2 separate regions of the Homo sapiens genome follow, and region 2 is linked to region 1. The links come from fine-mapping of genetic effects on gene expression. A gene starts in region 1. The other region holds a variant in brackets. All regions are shown on one strand. Distances are between the middles of the regions. Region 1 holds the start of CHST15 (carbohydrate sulfotransferase 15). Region 2 overlaps CHST15 (carbohydrate sulfotransferase 15).

Region 1 (2,903 bases):
TCATCCCGGTTTCCCATCTGCAGTTATAATCCTCTGATGGTGACCTCTGCATTAGTTGCCATGGGTGCTGAGCAGAAGTTTATGACCTCAGGGTGGACTGTAGCTTCAGGGGGGCGAGATGAAGCCTCCGGCAATAAAGAGATAATGGGGAGAAGCCACTGTCAGGAATGACCCTTCGGTGGCATGTAGTCTACAGTTAACGGAGCACTTTCATTTCCACTTCTGGTTGCTTCGAGGAAGAGGGTGCTGGACTCTGGCCACGGGGACACAGGCCGGCAAGAGACTGCAGATTCTTTTTGTCCCTTGGACCTCAGTTTCCTGAGAGGCTGGGCTTGGTGCTCCAAGCGCCCTCTGAGCGAATCTGCCAGAATTTCATGTGTCTTTTCTTTAACTGATGGCATCTTCAGCCCAGAGTCAGTGGAGTCGGCCACTGGTGCCGCTTTCTTGCCCTCGGGCTGTCCAGGTGGTTCCCTGGGGCAGCCGACTCCAGGCCACTGCGGCAGGCCGTGGCGATCGGGGTCCTGCAGAGCTTTACCTCCCCCGCGGAAGCAAAACACGCCGGGCCAAAGAGCCGGGCCAGCCTTCCCGGGATGCAAAAATACAACAGAGGGCGCCGAACTCACCAGCGCTGTGGCCTTGAATATTAATGTACGGGCTGGCTCCAGACCGCCAAGTTCCTTAAAGATGTCTCTGGCGGCCGGGCGCGGTGGCTTACGCCTGTAATCCCAGCACTTTGGGTTGGGGGGGCGGACGGATCATCTGAGGTCGGGAGTTCGAGACCAGCCTGACCAACATGGAGAAACCCCGTCTGTACTAAAAATATAAAATTAGCCTATTTTGCGTGGTGGCGCATGCCTGTAATCCCGGCTACTCGGGAGGCTGAGGCAGGAGACTCTCTTGAACCCGGGAGGCTGAGGCAGGAGACTCTCTTGAACCCGGGAGGCGGAAGTTGCAGTGAGCCGAGATCGCGCCATTGCATTCCAGCCTGGGCAACAAGAGCGAAACTCTGTCTTTAAAAAAAAGAAGTATCTGGCAAGGTGTCACTGCCAGATTTCAGGGGTTTCGATGTGCTTTTATTTGGAATCACCGCAACACACAAGCAGTGTTGACTCGGAGGGGGAGGGGGCAGGGGCCAAACCCACCGCTCGGCGCACACGCCTTGATCTCACATTCCAGACTGGAGCTGATGTGTGTCAGCGCGACATGGGGCGGGGGGAGGGTTCTCCTCGGATGTTTCATTCGCCGTCTGCACGTCACTCCCAAACTTTTCCTCCCAGCGCTCGGGGAGTCAGGTTGACGCGCCCTGGATGCGGGGCTAGAGGCTCGGGGCTGGGCGCGCTCCCGCGGAGCCGGAGCCGCAGAGGCTCCCGGGCTGGACTCAGGCTTCTCAGGTACAAGTTAGGTGCCAGACGCCGAGGTGGGGTCGGCGAGGAGCGGCGGTAGGAGGTCTGGCCCTGGGCTCGGGGCTCCGGCGCCCCTCCGCGGGTTCGGGCCAGGCAGCGCCGGCGGCGGCCGGGGCTGGGCGTAGGGAGTCCGGGCCGGCGGAGGCGGCGCGCAGCCTCACTCCCCGCGGCGCTCCCGGCGCGGTGGTGGCGGTGGCGGTGGCGGCGGCGGCCCAGGCAGACAATGAACTTGCGAGCTCGACGAGCCGAGGCAGGTTTGGGCCCCGGGCTCCTTGGCCCGGCCTCCCCGAGGCTTCAGCGATCCCCAGCGGGAGGAGTCCCTTCGCCATTGGTCCTGGCCGCGCTCCGGGCGCCCTGCGCGCTTGAGGACCCCGCGGGAAGGGTTACCCAGCGGCGACACACGCCCCCTCCCTCGCAGAGAGGACGCGGCCGGAGCGAGGGGACAGGGGACCGAGCAGTGGCGTGGTGGCGCCGTGGATAGCCGGAGGCCGGCGGGGGGCGCAAGCCGCGTGGAACGCACCGGCGGGCTGTCCGGGAGAAGGAGCCCAGTAGTCGGAATCGGGGCGCCCCTGCACCGCCCAGCTCTGGGAGCCGCAGGCGGGGGACCGACCGACGGACAGACCAGTGCTTTCACGGTGTGAGCGCGCGTCGTTTGGCGGTAGGGGACGGGGATTCCCCCCAGCCTTGCGCTCCGCCCCCACACCCCTATCGCACTTTGGGGAAGTTTCCAGGCGCGGCCCGGGGCAGGTAAGTGGGCATCCGCCACTCTCTCCCCGGTTGCGAGCTCGGATGCGCTTCCAGAACCCTGGCTCTAGCCTTGCGGCGGTTCCGGGCGGGGAGGCCAGAGCTCTCCCGCGCCTAAGCCCGTGGGACCCGGTTCAGGGAAGGGGGATGGCGGGGGCGGGCCTGGGAAGAGATAGGGGAGCGGCTGAGCCCCGAGCGGTGTGAACTTTTGCTCCCCGCCCCCTCCTCCTTCCTCCTCCCCGCCCCGCCCCCACTGCTGTCCCCTCCCTGCGCCCCGCCGCGTCTCGGGAGGCGGCGTGACTCGGGAGTTGCCGGCGCTTCCCGGCGGTGGCGGCGTCTCTGGCCGGCCTTGGTGCGGCGAGCCGAGCGAGGCAGCTCTGAGCCGCGCGGTGAGGCCAGAGGCGGGGAGCCGGGGCTGCGGGGCGGCGAAGCTGGGGAGCCGGATGGCAGCGGCCGGGGCGCGGAGGCGACGCTGGCGGTGGAGATGTAATGCGAGTCTGTTGGGTTGTGTGTGCCGGGAGATAGGACGCGGTGGCTGTGGGTGGCTGGGTGGCGGGCTGTGGCGCAATTGGCCCCCTGGGATGGCAGGATAGAGGCGCCGGGGCGAAGGGAACCTTGCCTTTGGGAAAATGAATGAAGAGCCGTGGAAGCACCTTCCCGACTCCTCCAGGCAACCGATGGGCCGGCGTGCGCGCGAGTGTGTGCGTGTTGAGGCTTCGGAGCCGCCCGGGTCCTGGGCACAGCTGCTTGACCTCC
Region 2 (2,903 bases), 56 kb after region 1:
GCCTGGACTTCCAGACAGAAGTTTTTGGGGTGGAGGTGGGGTGTGGCTGTGGCAGGGGGGGGCATCCAACCTTCTCTCTTTGGAGTCCCAGATGCCCGCAAAGGCTGACAGCTTGGCCTCTCCCGCTGCTTAAGAGGAAGGCATCGGGGCCAGGTGTGGCCTCTGGCACCTAGAGCCACTCCGTGGGAGCCTGAATCACACCCCTGCTCACTTGGAGTGTTTTCTGTTTCCAGGGGAGGCCAGTGCCTCCACGATGTGGGATAATAATGCCTGGACGTTCTTCTACGACAACAGCACGGATGGCGAGCCACCGTTTCTGACGCAGGACTTCATCCACGCCTTTCAGCCAAATGCCAGACTGATTGTCATGCTCAGGGACCCTGTGGAGAGGTGAGCAGTTTCTGTGTGTTGTATTTGGGGTGAGAAGAGGAACTTTTGAAGAACAGTGTTCCCCTCTCATGACAAATAAGATTTTGTCTCCTTTAGAAAAAATTAAACAGGTCGGGTACAGTGGCTCATGCCTGTAATCCCAGCACTTTGGGAGGCCGGGGTGGGTGGATCGCCTGAGGTCAGGAGTTCAAGACCAGCCTGGCCAACATGGTGAAACCCCATCTCTACTAAAAATACAAAAATTACCAGATGTGGTGGCACACTCCTATAGTCCCAGCTACTCGGGAGGCTGAGGCAGGAGAATCGCTTGAATCCAGGAGGCGGAGGCTGCAGTGGGCCAAGATGGTGCAACTGCACTCCAGCCTGGGTGTCAGAGTGAGACTCCATCTCAAAAAAAAAAATAAAATAAAATAAAAACAAACAAAAATAAACGGAACTTGCAACGTTACTGCTGTTTCTTACGTAAGTGTTATTCTTGAGGCTGTCCCCACTGAGTTGACACATGTTGCAGATGGTTTTCTTAACCATTCTGATCCTGGTCTGTGTGACTTCAGCCCCAGCAGGCCTGACCAGGGGCACAGGACGGTTCCTTGGTACTGTCAAGGCGAGGGAAACACCCTTAGAATCAGGGGTGTAAGCTTCTCCACGTGGTTTAACTCCTAGAATTCTGTGTCTCTCCACGTGGTTGATGCCTTTATCCTTGTCTGCGTTGAATGTACAGTTTCCAGCTTTCCTTGAGAGACCAAAAGGAAGAACAATGCTGAGCAGAGCAGCTTTGCTTTAAGATCAAGGGTTTCCCAGTGTGGGTGAGGCCAGGGTAGTGGGATATTGAACAGCCACTATGGGGCGGCCTGGCTGGCACTGGGCACTGCTTGCATCATTTATGCCTGTGTGAATGCAGAATCTCAGGGCTGCCAGGACCTGAAAATTATTTGGTCCAGTGCTCCCTCCAATACTTCCACATCAGAGCTAAGGGGGCACCTGTCTAATCCGAGGCCCTCTGAGTCAGGGAATTCTCCGCGCAAGATGGCCAGTGTAGCTTAGGACAGCTGTGTTCCTATTTTGAGACCAGGTCTGTTTTGGGGAAACATCCACTC[A/G]TTGGTCCTCTTTCTTCTCCATAGAGTCAGACAGACCAAGTCTAATCCTTCCAAAACAGGAGAGGCTGGCGATATTTAAAGACAGGGACCACAGCCCTTTGTGTCTTATTTTCCTTTGGGCCAACTACATCTTCTTATGGATTGAATTGTGCCCCCCAAAAAGATAAGCTGAAGTTGTCTCCCCCAGTGTGTATGACTGTGACCTTATTTGGAAATAGGATCTTTCTTTGCAGATGCACTCCGGTTAAAATGAGGTCATACTGGATCAGGGTAGACCCTCACCCACCCTAAGACACAGGGAGCATGCCTCTTGACGAGGCTGGAGTGATGCTGCCACCAGCCAAGGGGTGCCAAGGAGTGCCGGCAGCCACCAGAAGCCAGGAGAGGAGTGGAACAGATTCTCCCCTGGCATCCCAGAGGAACCACCTCTGCCCCACACCTGGGTTTCAGACTCCAGCTTCCAGGACACTGAGGGAAGAAAGTCCTGTCATTACGCACCACGAGTTCGTGGTGATTTGTCCTGGCAGCCCCGGGAAACTGACCCCTGGGACCCCTTCTTCAGGTGGCATACCTTCCTGGCCCCACGTATTTGCCAATTATAACAATAAGGCGTGTTTGTTGTGGAAATTTTGGAACATATATTGGAAAACTGTTTTCAAACTATTAATTTCTCACCTAGATAACTACTATTTATGTTTTGGTGTATTTTCTTCCAGACTTTTCTATGCAAATAAGTGTGTGTGTGTGTGTGTGTGCACATGGGTGTGACAGGACAGTCTTATGTCCTGCTTCTTTCACTTTGCATTGTTGCCCCCCAGAAACATGCTTTAAAGTCTGCTCTGGTCACACTTCTGAGCTGATGTCCCTCTTGTGGAGTCTGCATGGCTCCCGCTGCTCTGAGTATGACCTGGTCAGGGAGAGGCTGGATCTGCCCTCCCTCAGCCCCAGCGCTCTGAGCCTGAGCTCTTGGTGGCTGTCCCGGTGCCATGCCTTCTAGCAGGTGCCAGGTGTGGTTTCGCTCCCTGCTCTCTGCATCTCCCAGCCCAGGACTTCTTCCACTCTGTTCTGAGGCAGGCACTGACTTGCCGTCCCTTGCCATGTCCCACCTGCTGGTTCCCGTGTTTTGGAGGCAGAAATCGGCCCTGCTGAGTGGTCTCCCTCCATCCAGCAGGGCTGACGCACACTAGCCGAGCTCTCATGGTGACATAACTGTCACCTCGAGCTGACCCCTCGCCGCCCCCGGAGGTGTTTGCATAGCTGCTCTGCCTCCCTCCCCGACACGGCCCCCAGCTGAAGGGCGCAAGTGCTCGGTGTGCTCATCAAATGTTTTCCTGTCGCTGCTGCTTAGTTCCTCATTCTGAGAAAGGTCAGACCACGCCTTAACCTCAGGGGCCGAGAGTGCACACAGCAGCCTTG

The links.
Region 2: its variant is fine-mapped to the expression of CHST15 in whole blood (TOPMed, PIP above 0.99).

What each region holds. Positions count from the first base shown.
Region 1 is chr10:124,091,957-124,094,859 of GRCh38, reverse strand. CHST15 (carbohydrate sulfotransferase 15) reads left to right here and starts at 1,262. Exons shown (of 8, transcript NM_001270764.2): 1 at 1,262-1,391.
Region 2 is chr10:124,036,002-124,038,904 of GRCh38, reverse strand. It overlaps CHST15 (carbohydrate sulfotransferase 15), which reads left to right. Exons shown (of 8, transcript NM_001270764.2): 5 at 234-390. Among named protein-coding and RNA genes, the nearest start is that of CHST15, 56 kb to the left of the region's middle. RefSeq lists a silencer at 2,685-2,734. The variant A/G (reference allele first, on the strand shown) is at 1,488.